3 linked regions of the Homo sapiens genome follow. The protein of the gene in region 1 interacts with the protein of each later gene in a pairwise test. Each region holds a gene or a part of one and is shown on either strand. Other genes may lie near its edges.

Region 1 (7,056 bases):
GAGAAAGAAGGGAGAGGAGGCTGGTAGCCTACTCTGACAATGTGCCCACTTGCCCGCCAACCAGTTCTGGCCCAACCTCCTCAGACCTGCCTTGGGTGCTCTGACCCAGAAAGGGGAGGGGCCAGAGGTGTTTACACACAGAGTGACCTGGAAGGGAGCTACAAGGATGACTGAAGCCACAAGCCTCTTTATTTCTTAATCGCAGTTGGTGAGGATCTCAGAGCAGCTCAAACTGTCAGCTGGCAGCCCTGGTCACACCTGGGGAAACTGAGTCACAGAGGGGCACAGGAGTGATTCAGCCAGAGACATACTCCGGGCCCTGACAAGTCTCCCCGAAGATGTACCAGATACCAGCCAGCCTGCCTTTCCTCCACATTACCTCTTCCTCCCCACAGCTGAGCCACGCCACCAGCCCAGCCTCCCCAAGCCTCAGGGACGACTGCCAGAGGGAGGACTGGCAAATGCTAGGGTCCAAACACTTACTAACGACAGGGAAACCATAAGGAACAAAAACTTGTGAGGAAAAATGTGCCTCAGGAAGAGAATTTCATAAGAAACTCTCCTTTTCTAAGTACATCTGGCCTGCAGGGACCTTGCTATCCAGCAAGCTTACCCATCCAGAACCAGAGGAAAGACCAGAGCAAAGCGGCCTGAGCAGGCAGAACAAAGTCCAACACTAAGCTTCCCAGACTTGAACCACCAATGTTAACAAGCTTCATCCCAATTTTCCAGCCCACAGAAGAAACAGTGAGTAGTAAGAGGAAAAGGCTGCTAAAAGGGGAGTCGCACAGCAGGAGGAAGTAACAATTATCCCTAAGAGGAAAAGAAGCTGTTCAAGAGCAGTCCCAGGAACATAACACAGAGGCCAGTCTGTGAGCTATTCAAGGCAGGCTGCCTAGTTCTCCAGGCAGCTTGGGGCCAGAGGCCTAACCCTCTTACACAGAGGGCTTGACCTGAGTTGCCTGGCGGGGGGGAAAAATCACAGCCCAGAGAAGACTGTTTAAAGAGGAAGGGAGCCATGTGACCCACTGGGGGGACATTCCCACCCCAATTATTTAAAAGTAATATTTAACATTTAAAAGGTTTTGAAGCTAAAAAGGCCACGCTGCAACTTTGTGGAATACTTAGCTCTGTGGAATTATTTCTTCCCTGTGGGTGCTGGGTGTTGATTTTACGCTAAAAAAAAATTGTCTTTGGAGTCAATGAGCACACAGTATTTGCTCACAAAGAGGCAAAGTAAATTTCTAAACTTTCGGTGTCAAGAAATTGAGGTGTTGCCCACTAGTCTCACCCATCTGTGCTTCTACCCATCAGTATCTCTCTCTTTTCTGCCTGTCCTACTCATCTTGTCTCCAGTAACTTTCATTCCAATTTTCTTTGATAATGATGAGAAATCTTCCACTGAATGCTTACTATACGCCAGGCACTGTCTAAATGTTGAAACACAGCTACTTCATTCACCCTCAAAGCAATCCAAAGAGGTAGGTAAGGCTAAAGGTTCAAGTAGTTAGAGGTTAAGAGACTTGCCCAAGGTAACACAGGTATTAAACAGAGCCACGTGGACCAAAATGCAGGCAACACAAGCCCAGACAGTCTGATTCCAGCCCCTCATTTCCACTTTCTCTCTCCTCTCTGGTGACTGGCTTCCAAAACGCCTGAAGCATTAAATCCTTGTTGGACATCTCTGAGCCCAAAGCTGGAAAACTCTCAGCATCTAGGCCCCCACTTGCCTTGGGAATGACAAGCCCTCACCCTGATCTGCCATCTCAGCTGAACACTTCCTGTCTCCTCAAGGAAACTTAGTATCTACCTTTCTCTTCCTCTCACTTCCCAAACTGCTCAGAAAACGGCGGGGGGGAAGAAAACCCACCTGGGGGTCTCAGAGCCTTGGTCGGCACGTGGAGAGGTAACGTGAATTTCCCCTATATTCAAGAGAAAAGGAAGAAGGTCTGGGAGCTCACCTGAAATGCCAGGCTCACTTTTAGTAACTGCTGGCATCCAGTGCGGCAGGGGCCGAGCGCTCCAGTGCTGGGAGCTGAAAGAACAGTCACCCCTGCCCAGGAAATAACCACTGAGCCAACCATCATGCCCTGATTACCGTCCTCAGGGAAAGCCTACCGGTCCCTCTAAAGCACCCTCGTCCCATTCTCAAACCCCCTGTGGAAATCAGAAGCCAAACCTAGCTTTACAATGTCAGGTCTCTTCGCTAGAGCTCTGGTCACGCCCCTCTTCCTGGAGTACTCCAATCACACTTGGCGCCCAGAAACTGCCGCTGCCGCTGACCTTGGGCAGACTGCGCCCTCCCTCTAGCCTCGGCTCCCCCTCCGCTCAGAGGCCCGGGATGGACGCGTGCGGCCGGTGCCAGCGAGCCTCAGGGAAGGCTGCGCCCAGCCAGCTTCCTGGTGCCGCTCACGTGCGCGGCGGCGGAGGGCCGGGCCCTTAAACGGCCCCCGTCCTGGGCTAAACTTCGGTGCTAGCAGAGGGCGGAAGGACTATGGAGGGTGGGGGGCCGCCGCCTCCCACTTTCGGATTCCAGCCCCTGCTCACCCCGGGCCTTGCCTATTTACTCAGAGCCTTTCTCTTCGCCCACCTCCTCACGGAGCCCCACGCACGTCTGTAACTTAAAGGACGCTAAAGTTTGCAGCCCAGGCTGCGAGGCGCGGCCTTGGGGGACGGGGGCGGAGTTAAAACGCGACTCGCGCCTCTTTCCCTCACCTCCACGGCCCCGGGGCATGCCCTGCACCGGTGGCCGCGGAAGTGGGCTGCCCGGAAGAGTAGGGGCTGCCCCAAGGTCGCATCCAGGCCCTCGGACCTGGCCGAGGCCAGCTGTGGGCAAGACAAGATGCAAAGAGCGGCCCGGGCCGCGGGGGTCACGGAGGGGACACGGAGAGTCCTGAGGTCGCGCCAGGGCGGACAGGGGGAGTCCCAGACCTACGCCCCAGTGGGTATGCCTCTCCTCTGGCCCGGCCCTCACCTCAGCAGCCGCCCGCTGCGGACGCCGATCCGCGCAGGCGGCTCAGGGTTCGGTTACGGAGCCTGCGCGCGCCCGCCGCGCACGCTCGCTCCGCCCCCTCTCGCGGCGGGACATGGCCGTGGCCGTGGGCGCGTGCGCGCGGGACCCGGAGGGCGGAGGCCTGCCCCGCCCCGTCTCCATGGCAACGGGCGTGTGCCTAGCCCCAGCGCTGGCTGCGGCGGAACCCACGGCGTACCTTCCCGCCTCCAACAAACTATCCGGTTGCTGAGGTTGATTTAGCAACACCCCAGGGCATCTGGGTTGGCAGGAGCACCACAGTGACAGCCTGGCCCAGGCTCGGGTACGGGAGGCAGCCCAGTGGCCCGCAGTAGAGGGCCAGGCTGGGGACCAGGGAGCTGGGGCTGAGGAGAATTTGTACAGCCTAGGGAGGCGCAGCACAGCAGTATCAGCCTCTGGCATTTGTACCACCTTTAGTCCTGCCACTTTCTCTCACTGTGGCTTCGCAACAGACTTGGGAACCAAGAAAGGCATAGGTGAGGAAGCTGAAGCCCAGTCTGGGCTCGCGGAAGAAACTGGTGGATCCAACTTCTGCATAGCGCAAATATCTGCTTCCTGCCTCCACCCACCCATTCCCACTTCCGTGAGTATATTCATCCATCCAACACTTATTATTACTCCTTGCCAGGACAGTTCTAGGGGCTGGGGATAGAGTGAACAAAACCAAGGTTCTGCCCTCCTGGAGTTCACGTTCCATGGGAATGCCCTTCTTCCAGGCTCCTCCCTCAGTGCCCAGGTTGTGGCTGTGGGAGGCTGGTCTACCTTTGTGGTTTAGCGGTAACTTACGTGATTCCCACGTCAAGTGTAAGCTCCTTGATGATTGGTTCAATCTTCACCTCAAATTTCTGAGGACCTACAAACTACAAAGCACTCTTCTAGGGGCCCAAAGATAAAACGCTCCCCTCGTGAAAATCCCGGACTTTTGGTGGGAGGTGGGGAAGGTGACAACTATGCTCATAAGCTTGGCTACAAGACCGGCGAGGCCAAGAGCTACTTTGGTATCCTGACAAGGACTGATGTTTGGGAGGGGGATCCAGCAGATGGGAACACCACGAAGGTGGTGGTGGGAAAAGTCAGCAGTCACAGGGTGGTTCACCTTGTGGATCCCACTACTGCACCAGCAAAGAGCAGGCTGGGCACACAGAGACAGTCAAAATCCCAGCTTCCTTTCCCTCTGCTTCACATTCTTCCTTCCGCAGGCAGGGGAGTTTGAACCTTATCCACAGGGCCAAGCCTGTCCCAGCCCTCTAGGCAAACTGGCAGAACAGGCAGCTGGCCCCTCACAGGCACTCCGGGCTGGGCCAGTGCAGGTCGCAGCAGTTGTTTTACCTATGAACATCAAGCACATGGTCAAACCCTCAGCTTAGGTGCCCCAGGCAGGCGGGCTACACACTTGGTAGCATTTCCTTTGACACAAGGAGCAGCCATGGCCCGGGCTCAGAGACTGACAGCCTCTGCCTGCAGGGTCTGCGTGGTCATTTCTCCTGCTTCTCAGAAGGTGGTGAGCTTTTCCCAGGAAACCATTATAAGGAAGTGCCCATTCTTTATCTTGTTCTCTCTGCTCACTTCCCTTAGCCTGATTGGGGAACTCTAGAGCCCCACATCAGAGTTCAACATGTGCCTCAGGAGCTTCAGCACCTCTTTTGTGGGAGGAGAGTCCGCTGGTGACTGGGGCTGCAGGCCATGACATCAGCCTGCCCAGCTTCACCTCAGGCTGCTTCCAACAGTGCCAAGTGAGGTCCCTTGGCAGGATCCCTGCAAGGCAGCGGCTGGCCACCAGGAGGCAGCAGCCTACTCTACAAGGCACTTTCTTCATTCCAACCCCTTGTAACAGGTCTGAGGAAACCTGTTCGCCCAGCCATGTGCTGCAACCATCCTCCACTCCCAATCTTATCTCCCAATAGCACAGATTCCCCTATCATGAGTCCAGACTTGGCCTTCATCTCCTCTTGCCTTCCTCTGTCCAAGGAATCACTACAGAGATTCTTTCTCTATCCTTCTTTGTAAATTTCCAGAAAATTGTTTCCCCAGGGCCCCTCCCCTTGAAGAAATTAAACAGGAAGCTGGAGTAGACTGTCCCTTCTTTCCCCCACCTCTCACACTCCAAAGCTCTGTTTAACTCTGTGGGCCAGTGGCTAGATTCCCCAACATGGATGACAGAGAATACACATGCAATAAGAATGTTTTCGCTGCCACCAGCCACTCACAGACACACTGTCTCCCACCCTCTGAAGGCATTGTGCCCAATCCCCAGCCACTCACTGTCTAGTCAGGGCTGCCCCTGCAGGACTTGCCTTGGCTGAGGACCAGCTAGCTTCAAGCCACTCTGAAGTCAGCTTGCTGTTTCCCCTGGAGCCTGGTAATACATCCTTCTTCAGGTGAACAAAAGCAGAAAAAGCCCAGTGAACCCCACTGCAACAAAGAGCCTGCCATCAGTCTTCCTTCTGTTCCTGCCTATCTCATCACCCAAGGGCTATCCCAGAGCCCACTATGTTCTAAGATCTATTCCTTTCACCACCACCCAGCCAAACAACTATCCAGACAATTCCTTGATCAAACAACACTGCCTTCTTGAGTTTAAATTTTATTTTACAAAAAGAGAAATAAAGAAAACTGATAGGCAGTTATACTGACTTACAATTGTTCTGTTTGCTTTTTTTTAAAAAAGTGACATGAAACACAAGTAAAAATAAATACGTCATAGAAACAGCCAGTTGCCCAGTCTCTGGGGCAGGAGCGCCTGCCCTGCTGAGAGGAGGGAAGCCCATGATCACACCAGCAGCTGGATCACCCAGCCACAGATGCTCCTCGAAGCCAGGCACAGGTCCCAGGCCTCAGGGGCGTCCTGAGGAAAGAAGACGGAAAACCAAAGCCAGGTGCCAGGACCCTGGGGCCACCTCATTATCCCCCACTCCTCCTGGCAGCAGTCTGGTCTTAGTGGTTATCCATAGCGACCCCCCTTAACCCACCTGGACCCTCTTCCCCTGACCTCTCTGAAGATGGTACAAGGGAAAAACCTGTCTTGGGCAGGCTGGGGGGGATTCTTCTGGTGAGTCCCCAGCCCACCCTGAGTAACACAACCAGATAACAGTCATTTTACACCCAGGTGCACATGAGCACAGCACACAAACACACACACACACACTCACACACACACACACACACAGCTGGGCTGAGCTCTCTTCCAGGGAGGGTCCTGGGTCCAGTCACAGTATGAGGTCCTCTCTCTTCTGAATATCATCCCAGTAGTGGCAGCAGAGAGTACCCAAACCTCCCCAAGCCCTCTGCATTGCAGACACTGCAGCCTGCTTGGCTACCCCTCCCCAACACACTAGATTACTATGTCAAATAGACCTGCAAAAGGGAAAGGTGCACACTCAGGTCCCTGAAGAGCAAAGAAGTTGGACACTGCCTGCTCAAGAAGTTCATTGTTATAAGACTCAGGTATTCATAAAAGGCCTAGGGCTAAGCTAGTAGCACAGAAAAGCCGTTAAGGGGATCACAGCAGAATACACAGGGCAGAAGAGAAGAGTTGGCAGCAGGGGAACGGAGTCTCAAGGTGACCAATAGAGAGCACAACATTCTCAAATAGTCCTTGAGGTGCTGATTCCTGGGAGTAGTCAGCAGAGGGCCAGAACATCTCCCAGGGGTCCTTTTGGGGAAGGATGACTTCACTTAGTTTTAGGGGTGAAGAGCCACTGAGCTGGGTGCACAGAAGGCCATGGCTCAGAAGGGAAAGACTGATCTGAGAAATCAAAAGGAAGTGGGGGCCAGGAGCAGTGGCTCACGCCTGTAATCCCATCACTGGGAGGCCGAGGAGGGTGGATCACTTGAGGTCAGGAGTTCAAGGCCAGCCTGGCCAACGTGGTGAAACCCCGTCTCTACTAAAAAATATACAAATTAGCTGGGCATGGTGGTGTGCACCTGTAATCCCAGCTACTTGGGAGGCTGAGGCAGGAGGATCGCTTGAAACCGGGAGTGGAGGTTGCACGGAGCCAAGATCACACCATTGCACTCAAGCCTGG
Region 2 (7,616 bases), on another chromosome or scaffold:
CAAATTTTTCAAAGCTTTATTCTTTATTAAACAACAACAACAACAATCTTAGTAATTCTAAGGTTCAAAACTCAGTAAGGGTCAAGTGAAAGACACTGTCTAGGGGCAAGAAAGCTGAATTCTGTTCCTGGCACTGCCACCATTGGACTATCTGATCTTTGGCAAGTCACTTAATCTGCACTTAATTTCCTCACTCACAAAGGAAGGACGTTCAACCAGGCCATCTTTAAAGCTCCTTTTAGAAGTGGAATGTGATGATTCTATAATTAAAAAGCACAATGTAGAAAAGTGAAAAACTAGTAAACAGGAGTGATAATTATCATACATCTTAAAGAAATGGAGTTTAAACTCTTAATAACTTTTAATGATCCAGGTAATTTAATGATTCACTTAAAAATCAAGCTTTTAAGAAGTATAAACTACAATAAGATCAACTTGTGATTTTACATTTCCAAATGGTGAATTTAACTACCCAATGCTTTAATTTTGAGAAATTAATGCTTTAATGTTGAGAAAAGGAATGCTGCCATTTTAGATATTTTCAGATTACTCACTGAAGTAAGACTTAATTTATCCTTTAAAATGGGGCCATCTATAAGGTGCAGTTCAACCTAAATGTCATCTTCTAGAGACCACATGTAATAGCCCTATGAAAAAAAGGCTGGGCAATGCCAGCCAGTCAGCACGCCAGCCAGTCAGCCACATAAATAAATTGCACAATAAAATTTGTAACAGAAAATTTTGAATAAAATTATTAATAGAACACAAAAAAATGGAAAGAACAATTTGCTTAAGAATGGCAGCCTCCTGAAGCAACATTTACTGTTTAAATTGTTACATTTTCCTAAGTTTTATAAGTAATAATACGATTATTAATCATACTTTATTAAGATTTAAAGCATAAAAAGTCATTAACTCATAGGGCATAAAGATTTCCATGAGCTTGTTACATTTTATGTATTTTATTTCCTTAAATGGTTATGGGATTTTCCAAAAGCATACACACAATTCCTTAAACTTTGCCAACTTAGAATTAGTTACATAAAAATCACCCTTCAGACCGTATGGAATCCCCTAGACAAATCTACTCAGCCTTTCTGTGATAGGTTATCTGGGTGTGAATTCCACCACCACCTCCCCCTCGTCCCCGCCCACAAAAAATATATTAAGACTTGGCCCAACTAGATTTTACAGGCGACAGAGATGTAAAGAAACAATTTATGGCTTGCACAATTATCTAAAATTCCCGCAAACAAGCAGTTCCCTAAGTAGTATGTCATAATTTTCTTATCTATGAGTAGAAGCACGTGCATTTATTTATATCCCTAGATTAACTTCAAGTCTAATTTTACTGCCAGTAGTATCCAGGGGTGGATTTCTTTGTTCTAATTACAAATGGAACTTGAGCTAGATCAAAGGCATTTTAAGAAGGTCAAATTTTACTTCTCTGAAAAATAAAGGGTGTTATCCCATGTAATTAATTAATGCTTAGCCATGCCCTTTGGCGCATTATCCGGTGGCTGCAGAAAACCAGAGCCAGCCGTTCCCACCTGTTGGTGCAGTGAAACTTACTTACCCAAAAGAGCAGATTGAGGGCGTAGAGCAGGCAGCGCAGACACTTCACGGAATCTTCTCTGGCCATTGTGAGCCCCGTAAGGGAGAAGCCCCATCCTTTCACCACATCCTACTCCCAAGGGCAAAACGGCAGCGATCTGCAGGGGGCGGGGGAGAGAGAACACGGGACATCTCACCATCACGCTTCCCACAGCCTGCCCGTCCCTCCTCCACCCGCCCTCAGCAGGGTCCAGAGGGTCCCGAGGCCCAGTGCATTCGAGACATCGCCTCATCAAAAATCATTTGTTAAAATCATAATGGTAACTAAACTCCCAAAAGTTCCAAACCGGCTTCAGATAACACCTGCTGGGAAAAGAAAAGAGCAACTATCCGGATGAATGAAGTCGCACAGTAAACTCGCGTTCTCAGGGGACACGCGGCGGAGCCCTGTGCATTCTGATGAGACGCTCTTGAAAACCTCCCTCACTCCACGCCCCTCCTCGAGGACAGCTGTGCTCGGCACTGTCCTGAAGGTGAGAAACCACACTGCCCCCTACCCCGGACACGTCAGAGGCGCCACCGGCAAGCCCGAGAGAATGAGCGCCCTTCTAGTTAGGACAGTTCCTGGGCACTCCAACTCCGCACCCCTCTACCCCGTCCCGCAGCTCGGGTGTGAATGCAAGGGACTGGGGCGGCGGGGCGGGGGCGGGGGCGGGGGCGAGGGGGCAGCGCGGAGTTGAGATTCCGCCCGGCTACTAGGGTTTCTCTGGGAGAACGTGAGAAATGATGTTTTCGGCCCCAGAATGATGGATTAGCCTGGGACAGTGGGCGGGGGGCGGGGGGCGCCGGGGAATTAGGGCCGATGCAGCTGTGCAGACGCCGGGTTAGTCATTCAAACCCCGCTTCCCCCGCCCGGGACGCTCCCGCGACCCCTCGCTCAAAGCCGCCCGCGGAGCACAAAGCGAGCGCGGCCACCGACCCAGCCATCGCGTCCGCGCGCCCCCGGCAGGGCGCGAGGGGAAGCGCCGGCGGCAGGGAGCCCCAGAGCCAGCCCTTAAGTAGTTTAGCACACAGCGCGGAGGGCAGCCGCCGGCGGGCTGGCGGGACAGCGGGCAGGAAAGGCGACAGACGCGTGGCCACTTACCGTCGGCGCTGGGCCCGGTGCCCCACGCCCGCCTGGGGATAGTCGGGGACGCACGGCGGGGGCTCATCGGGGCAGGGAACTTCTTCGCGGAGAGCCGGAGGGCTGCATTGGCTTCAGCTGGAGACGCTTCTTTCTCTTCCTCTCCCCCCGCCGCCGCCGTCGCCGCCTCCTGGGAAAAAGAAAAAAAAAAAAAAAAGTCCTGGGCAGCAGTTGCTGGAAAGTCTCTGCTAAGCCACCTCCCAGCGCCGCTGTCCCTCCCAAGTCCTCTCCGAGTCCGGACGAGGCAGCGGCGGCAGCCAGGGCCAGCTGCACAAACTCTCAGCGCATGCTCGAGCCGCTGGCTGCCGGGGTTGGGTCCTAGTGGGTGTTTCTTGTCCCTCTCACCCAGCGAGAGTCCCCAAAGGGACGCTTCACCTCTGCAGGATAGGGTCCAGAAGATAATGCCTAGGAACTTGGGAGAAGTCCGTGCAGTAAATCCCTTTAAAATGGTGGCGTCGAAGGAATGGAGGCTGGGTTATAAGCATAGAGAAGCAGGCTTTTATTATATGATAATATTTGTGTTTGAGAAGGGGGGTGAAGGGGTGGCCCAACCCAATTCCTGCAATGAGAAACTAGTTTTCACAACCTTTATGGAGCCACCTCCTGTGATTTGTTATTAACATGGTGCCCTATGATCCTTCTTATTGCTTTGTTGCCCTCCCGGATTTTTTTTTTTTTAAGTTCTTTCCCACTTTCATAGTGCACTAATAGCATTTACGGAAACATCAGAGTAATCATGTGCAGTCTGACATGCAGAAGAGGAGGAAAGAACATTTTTAACTCTTAGAAGTAACTCAAGCTTTCCAAAATTTCTCACGATAAGATTGTTTTGAGTTAACTGGGTGATTTATTTTGAAATGTGTACATAGTAGTGGATCTTTGGAAAATCTAATTTTTTTAAACTAGAAATTCATGAAGTATTACACAGCAGGAGACCATCCTTCCAAAAGAATCTTCCCTTTTAGAAGACAGAAGTTTCACACTAAATAAAATGCCACTGGATCATATCCTCCACATAAAATGTGGATGTGTTGTGCTATGCCTCACAGTACTGCTCATTTCTAGGATTACTTTTGTGGGCACTGCATGGCAAATAAAACTTCACCAGCAAATATGAATTACCTGGAATACGAGCAACATCTTTGACCTAATAACTGGAGTCCTTGGATTTCCTTGCAGAAAAAAAAAAAAAAAAAAAAATGGAATCCTATGTCCATGACTGCCTGTCTAGAGTTAGTTGCTGCATGACTGGAGTGACAATAAGACATGCAGTCTCATATGGAAAAGTCAAGACCAAAAGACAACATGGTTGTCCTGGGTTAGGCTAGGAAAATTATTGGTAAGCAAGTCACTAAGCAGTATGTAAGACAGCAACCCAAAAGAGTATAAAGAAGTATAGCCATACACAAAAAAAACACCAAGAAACATGTCCAGTTATCCATCAGATGACTCCAACTCTGATAATGAAGCAGCTTCTAGAATACTGGGGAAGAGCAAAGAAACCCACTTTTATCCTCTGCCAGTTTCTTCTCAAATTAGGGTGCATGCCTATTTTAAGCAAAGGACTGCTGAAACAACCAGCCATCCAAATGCTGTTGGTGCCATACATTCCCCGGAGAGGTATAAACATCCCCGCATTGAAAGGAGTCCATGACTGCTATTAAAACTGAGAAAAAGAGTGCCAACAATTCCCATGTGTCAAAGCAGAGATCCTCTTCTACTCCTAGAAGGTAGTTAAGTGCCCTTTCCTTAATTCGTATACCTTTAAGGGTCAACTGCCTTAAAGTAATAAAATACTAGAGGAAGTTACTTTAGAAGTATGCATGTCCTCTTCTTCCTGGTAAACAAGAAATACAGATCCAAGATAAAGTAGTTGCTCAACGTCACATCTGTAGTCCAACCTAGATTCCAAAGTAAAATCCAGAATAATGGCTCTTAGTACTCTAGTTTAATGGTTCTCGAAATTGTTGTACACGAGAATCACTTGGAGAGCTTTGAAACAACCCTAATTCTCTGGCATGCCTGATACCACTTAAATCGGAGTCTCTGCAGGTGAGGCCTAGACACACAGGGTTTTCCAAGCTCCCAAGGTAATTCTAGTTTGCAGCAAAATTTGAAAACCCTGCAACGAGGGCTTTACAGCTGCCTAAAAACTAGCAAAAGGGTCTCTTTAGATTTCGTTGGATCAAATCCCTCTCCTGTGAGTCGATAAATTGGGATTATTATCCCCATTTTACAAGTTAAGAAGAAAACAGAGCTGTAGTTACTGCTCTAATATTCCTGATAAATGGTCATCAGAGACAGTGAATCAACATTTCAGTAGAGGAGACCTCACCACATTTGAGACATTGCAGTAATGGGCAGTTTTTATTGCTTAAACTTGACCATACCACCTTTTAACTTCTACCCTTCAACCTTAGTTCCGCCCTTGGAGTCCATGGCATGAGCAAGCCTTCCTCCCATATGACAGCCCTTCAACTACTTGAAGGCAGCTGTTCTTCCCTCCCTCTCCAATTCTTCTCTTTCCCAGAATTGTGGAAGCACAGTAAGACTTCACATCGCAGCTGTCATTCTGAGGGTTCTATATTTTTCTCTGTGAGATCTGTTTTTTTGTGTGTGTGAACAAAAGGAGGATAGAAATATCATAATATGCACATAAAAATTTGAATATGTAATAACATATTAGGAAAATTGTATGGTCTATTTACTACCCATTAGTCAGGAACCCAATTCTGTGGCCAGGTGTTCTCCAATAAGTATCATTTCAGTGGTGGTATCTACTGTGCCTCATGCTGAAGATACTAAGACAAGTTCTTACCCTCCAAGAAAAGGCAAAACTATCCTTTCTTATTATATAATAATAATAACAATAATAATGACATCAAAAAGTAATAAAATAAGCATTTACAAGGAATCACATACATGTCAGTCCCAGTGTCAGGAGTAAAACTCAGCTATATGTAAGAGAATACAAGTTCCTCACTCCGTATGGCAGCTTGTTTGTTCATATCTTATTCTATTCATTCTGCTAAAGTTGTGGAGAGAAAAAGGATAACACAGGAGTTTGGATGTATGAGTTGCTATTCCTTCTTAGTACAAGACCCTCACAAGTACTCCTAAGCCAGTACTTTACAATTAATATGGGATAGACACCTAATGTGTTTTGAACAAATTACATGTGTCTGACATAATAGGTGCTTCTCACAATTTATCTTATTAATTCCTCATAACTATATGTTGAGATACTTGAAATCAATTCAGATAGCTGATTTTTGCCAGACCCACACAGGTAGTAAATAAAGAAGCTGAGATTCTAAGATCTGTCTGATTCTTTCCACTGTTTATCTGCATTACAATAAAATTTCAAATCTGGTTGGACAAGACTTAAGAGGAAAATTTTCGAACTTTTTAAAGTTAGTTTTCGAGAATATGAAGCTGAAATTCAAATATGTGTACTTAAACTATGACTGGTAAATCTACTTTCACCTCACTTCTAAAAGAGTATACAGACCTAATAAGACCTGAGAAAATCCTTTCATTACTGAATTAAGTAGACTGCTTTCTACTGTAAGCTTAGGATTGCCAGATAAAATACAAGACACCTCATTAGATTTAAATTTCAGATAAACAACAATTTTTTATTTTTTGGTATAGGCATGTCCCAAATGTTGCATGGGACAAATATTGCACTGGACATACATATACTAAAAAATTATTCAATGTCTACCTGAAATTCAAATTGAATTGCAAACCCTACATTTGTATTAGTTGAATCTGGCCTCCCTATGCAAACTAGCAAATGCACTCAAAGAGCCACAAAAACAAATATGTTTCACATAACAATGAGTCCAGGAATAGCGATTCATCTGCCCAGTAGTGATATCAAGGAATCAGTTCTTTTTCCTCCTTACTCTCCTGACACACACAATGAGTAATCATACTATACTCAGGTACCTCCTCTTATGGTCACAAGATGGCTGTGCAAATTCAAGCATCATTTTCAGTTACCATTACTTCCAAAGGAAGAAGGTATTTTCTCCTATGAGTTTCTCTTAGGATCTAGCAAACCTCTCCCAGGAGTTCTGCAGCAGATTATCCCTTTGATTGATTGGCTAGAACCTGGTCACATACTCATATATCTACCAATTATTCACAAGAACTATGGTTCTACCATAACTGGTTTGTTTTGTTTTGTTTTGTTTTGTTTTGTTTTGTTTTGTTTGAGACAGAGTCTCACTCTGTCACCCAGGCTTGAGTGTAGTGGCTCCATCTCTGCTCACTTAACCTCTGCCTCCCGAGTTCAAGTGATTCTCATGCCTTAGCCTCTCGAGAAGCTGGGACTACAGGTATGCACCACCACGTCGTGCTAATTTTGTCTTTGTAGAGACAGAGTTTCACCATGTTGCCCAGGCTGGTCTCAAACTCCTGTCCTAAGGTGATCCACCCACCTCAGCCTCCCAAAGTGCTAGGATTACAGGTGTGAGCCACCATGACTGGCCAGGTTTTAAACCAATCAAGATGTATTACCTGTGCCTGGGACAGCCCTTCTCTAAAGCACAGGGCCAAAGAGAGGAAGGTAGATAACTGAACACAGTCAGATTTTTATTTGAACTGAGGGATAGAGAAAGGAAGGCATAGTACCATCCTCTCTCCTGTTCACTGCTAGGACAACCCAGCTCTCAGCCAACCATTTTGGGGCACTACTTAGCAAAGTTTCTTAGTTATTGAAAGAACCACTGAAGCAGGAACCTCATGGCAATAGCAAAGGACCCTGAGAAAACTCGTATCACATCATTTCCATCCCATGCCATAAGCTTACTTTCAGCATCGTCATTTGCATTTACACACCAGGTAATTCTTTAAAGAAGTGCCCAAATCA
Region 3 (6,739 bases), on another chromosome or scaffold:
ATTTATGGTTTTATAATGCAGTTTTCCCTTCTCTTGCATGCTCTCTCTCCCCTGTCACCATGTAAGACGTACCTCTTCCCCTTTTGCCATGATTATAAGTTTCCTGAAGCCTCCCCAGCCATGCAGAACTGTGAGTCAATTAAACCTCTTTTCTTTATAAATTACCCAGTCTCGGGTATGTCTTTATAGCAGTGTGAAGACGGACTAATACAATATGCTAATGCAAGTGGGAAAACTAAGATTGATTTTGGAATGAAACATGCAGTCTCAACTTAAGAACACCCAATTTACAAAACTATATATATCCAGACAGAGTCATACTGAATGCCATGTTCTCCCACATCAATGTCAAATGCTTAGCATGGCCAGCAAAAAGCTGTTCCTTTGCTGTAATGCAACCGTGTCTTCTGAATATGGATCCATATTCACTTTCCATCTTATCCTCCATCAGACACACTCTTCTTTTCCTAAAGCATTTGCAGGGCAACAGAGGGTTCCAGGTTTCAGAATTTAAACAGTCGTATCTCATTGAAAATAAGTTTAATGATTATTAAGTTTCCAAGCTAGATTACAGAAGTCTTTTTAGCCCATATCATAAATAAAATAGTTCTGAATTTTTCGTATGGAAAAATATACTCTGAGTTCCAAGCAAACAACTTAAGAAAATTTTTAGAACTAACACATTCCTATATTGGGAAGAGCTCAAAAGTCTGTTCTTCCTCCCCATCCACTGTTGTTTAATTAATCTCTTAATATCATAAAGTCCCTCATGTGCCAAGTGTAGACAGTCATTTTTGAATCAGGGCTCACTTTGTTAGCTTTTTTGTCAATTAAACCTCTTTTCTATATAAATTACCGAGTCTCAAGTATGTCTTCATAGCAGTGTGAAAACAGACTAATACAGGAATTTGGTACCAGGAGTGGGGCATTGCTATAAAGATACTTGAAAGTGTGGAAGCACCTTTGGAACTGGGTAACGGGTAGAGGTTGGAAGAGTTTGGAGGGCTCAGAAGAAGACAGGAAGATGAAGGAAAGTTTGGAGCTTCCTGGAGACTTGTTGAATGGTTTTAACCAAAATGCTGACAGTGATGTGGACGATTAAGTCCACACTGAGGTGGTCTCAGAAGGAGATGAGGAACTTATTGGGAACTGGAGTTGCCAATAGATCAGCAGTTAACCAGAAGCTTGAGTTGAGTATGGACCTGACATATGGATAGACATATTGACATCTTATGCTAGTGTTCTGGCCCTCCCTGCCCCGACAGTGATAGAAGCATCCATCAACGCCCATCCTGACATCAGCATAAAGCACAGGTTGGAGAGATTGTAGATAAAGGCAGAGAGGCTATTATAATGCTTCTCACCTCCAGTTCCCCAGATGGAAGACAAGGAGGCCCTGGAACAAAGGAATGGCATTTGGGACAAAGTGATGTTGGCAAGTAAGAAATGCAGCAGTGGTCCAACCCACAGGAGATGCCAGACAATTGCTCATGGCATGAGATAGGGTCATGAGGAAAAGCTGAAGAACTGAAAATCTTTCTTCTTCCCTCCCTAGGCATTCATGCTCCCACCTCATCTACATCCCACAGATCCTCCATTTTCTCTAGGTATGAGATTTATTTCCAAGCTAGACTGAAAGCTGGAAGAAGATGGGACACATGTCTGCTTCATTTTCTATTTCCCCAGCATGTAGGTGCAGCACCCAGCCCCTAGTTGTTTATCAATTATAGGTCTTGATGGTCATGTCCCCAGCCTCCCGCCTCAGGAGTAGGCTTCACATGTCTCCCTTTCAGAAACAAAGCCACGTAAGACTCCAAAACCCCGCCTTCCCTTGGGCTCCACACAATCAGCATACATCTTTCCTTATCTGTTTTGTGCTCTGAAAATCGTGTCTACCTCCAAATGATACATCTTTAAAGTGAGTCACCCCTCCTCACAATCTACTCCAAAATTTCCAACAAGTTTTCTTCTTTTCATTCTTCCTCCCACCAGCCTATCCTATTCCCTTCTCTCCCCCCACAAAATCTAGCTCTTCTTTAAATACATTTAAACATTTTCGCTAGGACATTTCATCTATACAGGATATGCTATATTCTAACTATTTCTTAGTAAACATTGAAGGGAGTTTCTTCCTTTATTCAAGTATGGAACCCTGCTCAATATCCTTTTGGTCTTCATATGCCTTCTTTCAAGGCCTTTGTGAAATTTTTTTCCATGCCTGAAAGCCGGTGGGGTTTTACACAGGGACTGCGATGGCTAAATCCAAGGCAGAGTGGGATCTTTATCTATTAACCATTTGATAACTCAAGTTTATCCCTTGATGAATGAATAAGTTATCATTTGCCTTTGGGTCCCATTCTTGAGTGGTCATGGAGAGTTCTGTAGCTCACCCTCTTTATACTCATAATTTGCACAAATTTCACCTAAGAGTATTTACTTAACCACTTTAATTCAATTTGTCTCTACCTAAGACATTTAATTCAACAAATATTTTTTAAGCTTCTCTATAAAAGGGACTCTGGCAACTTTCAGACCCGCACTGTAGCACCAGCTCTCTGCTGGCCCACCCCTTGCAGACTTTGGGCTTGCCTGCCTTCAAAATCATGTGAGTCAATTCCTTAAAATAAATATATTTTTATTTATTTATATATATGTTTGCACACACACGCGAATCTTATTTTTTCTGTTTCTCTGGAGAATTCTGACTAATGCACCCCCATTCACCATCCAGGCTTTTGAGGAGAAAGATACCAATCTTAGCAGCAGAGGACACTCTGGATAGAGCTAGGAGTTTGTTGCAGAGTCTGACAAAAGTTCCCTCTGCAGAAGGGATGGAAGGATAGCCTTGGGGGTTGATTTAGGACTGGGTGTATGACATGGGGGAAAAGAAATCCCTGGGGGAGCTAAATGAGGGGAGGTGGACCCCTTATGATAGTTTATCAGAGCAATCTAAGAAATCATGTAGGCCTCTAAGAAAGCATCAAGAATCAATGCAATTTGATTAATTGACTTAAAATATGTTGAACTTTTCAGCCTCCATTGTGTATTTTTGGTGCAATACTCTGTGCAACTATTTCATCCAAGACCAGAAGGGGCTGGAAGATTGCCTGCTTCACATTAAAACCCTCCTTATTGTATTGGTGCTGACACGACACAAGGATATGCAGTCTTTATCCAGTCCTTATTGCTCACAGAAAGATACCAGTCCTTACTGCTCACAGAAAGTAGTGAAGCCTCCCTTCACTCACAGAGCCCACACAGGTATGCCCTGGTTTATGTAATGAATGGGCTGCTACAAATAGGTGTGATGCATGCCTTTGTGAATCACTTTATATTTTGAAGACACATTAGAGGAGCTGGCTATTTCAAAGAAATTTCACAAGTGCCTCATTTCTTAATGTCACAAGCATTTCTGATTTATAATCATAACCCCTTTCTAATGTATTAGCTTATGAAGTTCCATTTTTTGCCTAAGAGGTTTAATCAAAGCAAGATAAAACTATGCTTAATAATATTCAGTTACCTGAAAGAGCTATTGCAGAAATGCCTAATATATTACCAGAAAGTAGCTTAATGTCTCAAATAAATGTCAAGTTGTCCAAATCAAACTGATAGGCAGCTTAATGAGGGATAAATGTCATAATTATCCATATTTCTCCACATTTTTTTTAGAAAAAAACATTCACACAATGAAGGGAATCAGAATCTGTTTTTATATCCCTAGAGTTATAAACATTTGTATCAAAATATTTACAATTATAGTATATGAAATAATCTATTAACGAAGAAGCCCAATACAGTACTAGAACAATCCACCAGAGTAATGCAAATTACATGAGACATAAATGTCACAGAAAAAAAGTAAAAGATAAGGGAATACATGGTTTACTCCAGTCATAGTTCAACTTCTTAACAAAATGTGAGTATTCCCTTTGGATATGTCTGAAATGTAAGTATGTTTTTTGCACTAAGACAGCCTTCTATAATCATGTGATAATGAAATCATAATGACAAAGTTCATCTTCCCACAGTTTTTGCTGGCCAATCTCTCTAACCTCAGCCTAGGTAATTTGGTGGCTTGCCCTCAACATTTCCTTAACTAGAATAAACATAGAGAAATAGAATTAGTAATAATCCTTTTACATAAATACCAAAAATCATGGCATAACAACTCCCCAAAAAGGAAAGGTATAAAAGAAATGGATGAGGAGAAAGCTAATAAAGAAAAGTAGGCAAGATGTCTCAGATTCTCCCTGGGGTAGATCTTCTCAGGGCGATAAAGAAAACGTCTTCCCAAAAAACCCCTTTAGACAGAATCTGAGATGGCTTAAAATAGCTGCTCCAGGGCAAAGCAATGCCTGCTTAACCAGGAATAACATACTACTTCTAAGTCCTGTATAGAGGTGCTCCTGCGGCAGCAGACAGCTCGTCTACCATCTGACTAGGTACCACAAGAGTTTTTGCTTTTTTATTTTAAAGAAAAGATCTGCCCATCACCTATATTTTTATTTATCTCATGGGATTTTCGTATTTTCCTGGGAATGCAGGCACTCTGTTCTTATCATGGCTGAAATACGGTAGGCTTAATACTTCACAATTATATAGCACCTTTCACCCAAGGGCCTGTTGTTTGGTTTTGGTTTATGTGTGTTTTAATCAGCTTCCAGAATTGCCATGCCTCACCTGTGAAGTGGGATAGGCAGGGTCCCCAAGAGGTGATCACTCCAGGTGGTGTCTAAGCCAGAGCTACCACTGAGCCTAGGAGCCCTGATCCTCAATATTGATAATTAGACAAAACTTCCTCAAAAATGTTAGAGGAAGAGTAATAGGATTGTGCTACAATGAGCCATGTCCATCTCTCTCCTGTTGTATACTTAAAAGAAACACTGACTGCATTGAGGGGAATCCTAAAAACATAACCCTAACATGGCACTGTTGCAAGACTGCCCCTTGGATCCCATAGTTTGTGTGGTACTTTTACCACCGAATTGTTCACTAGTGACTTTAGAGAAACTCCAGAAGAGCTGCCTTGGCTTTCAGCAAGAGGCCTAGCAAAGACCATGGCATGAGGTCTCCATGAGGGACAGCCGTGTGTGAGGTCTCGACTGGGCTCTGACCATCCCCCAGGTTTTCCATTGTGAAAAGGTCTCCTTCTTGGTTTAGCTAACCCACCAGCATGACCTTACAAACTCTCTTTCCTCCTCCCATTTTGTCACTGAATTCCACAGAGCTAAATATCTGTTCCAAAGAGGGACAATGGCTCACAGGCCAAAGCCCCCCAGTAGGCACTTCAGACTGGAATGTGATGTTTTGCTTTGGGTCAGAAGGGCAGGATGGCTTCCAGGCTTAGCGTATTCAGCACAAAGACAGTATCTGCTCTTGCCAGAACTTGTACCGCTATTTTAACTCAGTGCAGTAGGTCTGTGGACCTCAGTGCATGACCCAGAAGTGGGGCTGGTGTTGTGGCAGCTGATGGGGCCCCAGACAGTGTGTGTCACTAAGAACAGCTGGAGGCCAAGTCTGGTGGCTGCAGGGAGGCTCTCTGGACCCCATCAAGGGAGCATCAAAGTACTAGCCAACTACTTTCTCCCCAGGGCAGGGGCTTGGCAGTAGAGAATCCCCTCAGTAATGGTTTGGGATTTGACCTCCCCCCTTTGCTTCCCCCTCCCCCCTCCCCTATCTCGGTTTTTCCTGTACAGCAACCTCCACTTCCCTCCCAGATTCAACGGCTTCCTCCTCCCCACCCCCCAGATCCCCATGAACTCGTCCGGCCTTATTTCTTTCTCAGGACCAGATAGAGAACGCCGATGATGAAGCTGAAGCAGAAGCAGATCCAGCCCAGGATGTAGGAATAGCCGTGGTGATACTGCGTTCCATCACGATTCGCATAATGACTAGTGTAGATGGACACCCCCACAAGAATGCACAGCCCTGCAGGGGAAAAGGAGATTTGTCGGTGTGTTTTCTTACATTAAAGTCGAGAAAAAGTTTTACTAATTTTAAGAAGATCCTATTTCCCTCATTAGCAATAGGAAAATGAATTCTGCTTGTTTGTCCCTAAACAGGAGTTCTGATGGATGTCCCCTGGGCCAAGCTCGACGGTATGTTGATAAATTAGAGGTGTCTGGGCTCTCATGTCTGCACTGGTTTGTGTGGCCACGCTGTGATGTAAAACACAGAACCTCATGCCTACCACCCAGCTGTCCTGTCTGGCCCTTGTGGGTCTAGGAAAGCTACTCAGGGATGCAAAAGAGCATGTCCTTCCACCAAACCGAGTATATTGGGAAAGAACAACAATTAAGTGAGAATCACAATAATGATGTGCATTGTGGCAGTGGTTTCATCTTTCTGAGAACTCCTACCTTTCTGCCTTCTTGAAGTGTCTTGTACACACGTGCTACTAACAGATATGCACTGCCACTTGGTAGCTACCCAGGAGCACTGGTTTTGAACAATGAAGCAGATGAGGGTTCTTAACCTAAGCAGCAATCCAAGGTTCTCCACAAGAGAACAAATAACCAGAGGAGAAAATTGCACAAGGAAGTTTCACTGAACCATGTGCTAATCTGTTCAAGTTGCCAGAAACACCCATGGTAAGATGGACTTAAAAGTGTAAACTGGAGTCTACCCATGAGATACTCACAGCACACCAGTGTGGTGGCCCCTGAGAGGAAGAACCGGTTTCCCTTCTCCATGGTGAAGAGCTGGAACACGAAGACCAGGAGGGCAATGACACAGA

What was found. The genes of interacting proteins can lie anywhere in the genome.
Region 2: the proteins of TEX264 (region 1) and TSPAN12 interact in binary tests that used the Homo sapiens proteins (3 or more experiments, as listed by UniProt).
Region 3: the proteins of TEX264 (region 1) and EMP1 interact in binary tests that used the Homo sapiens proteins (3 or more experiments, as listed by UniProt).

What each region holds. Positions count from the first base shown.
Region 1 is NC_000003.12:51,667,207-51,674,262, reverse strand, and holds the start of TEX264 (testis-expressed protein 264), read right to left. Parts: upstream 3,012-7,056; 5' UTR 2,975-3,011; exon of another isoform or gene 2,799-2,974; coding exon of another isoform or gene 2,716-2,798; intron 2,637-2,715; exon of another isoform or gene 2,560-2,636; intron 2,386-2,559; exon of another isoform or gene 2,284-2,385; intron 2,210-2,283; exon of another isoform or gene 2,180-2,209; intron 2,054-2,179; exon of another isoform or gene 1,962-2,053; intron 1,923-1,961; coding exon of another isoform or gene 1,871-1,922; intron 1-1,870. UniProt on the Homo sapiens protein: Major reticulophagy (also called ER-phagy) receptor that acts independently of other candidate reticulophagy receptors to remodel subdomains of the endoplasmic reticulum into autophagosomes upon nutrient stress, which then fuse with lysosomes for endoplasmic reticulum turnover.
Region 2 is NC_000007.14:120,855,122-120,862,737, forward strand, and holds the start of TSPAN12 (tetraspanin-12), read right to left. Parts: upstream 3,024-7,616; 5' UTR 2,699-3,023; intron 2,088-2,698; exon of another isoform or gene 1,714-2,087; intron 1,713-1,713; 5' UTR 1,643-1,712; coding exon 1,577-1,642; intron 1-1,576. UniProt on the Homo sapiens protein: Regulator of cell surface receptor signal transduction. Plays a central role in retinal vascularization by regulating norrin (NDP) signal transduction.
Region 3 is NC_000012.12:13,213,726-13,220,464, reverse strand, and holds the end of EMP1 (epithelial membrane protein 1), read right to left. Parts: coding exon 6,644-6,739; intron 5,932-6,643; coding exon 5,774-5,931; 3' UTR 524-5,773; downstream 1-523.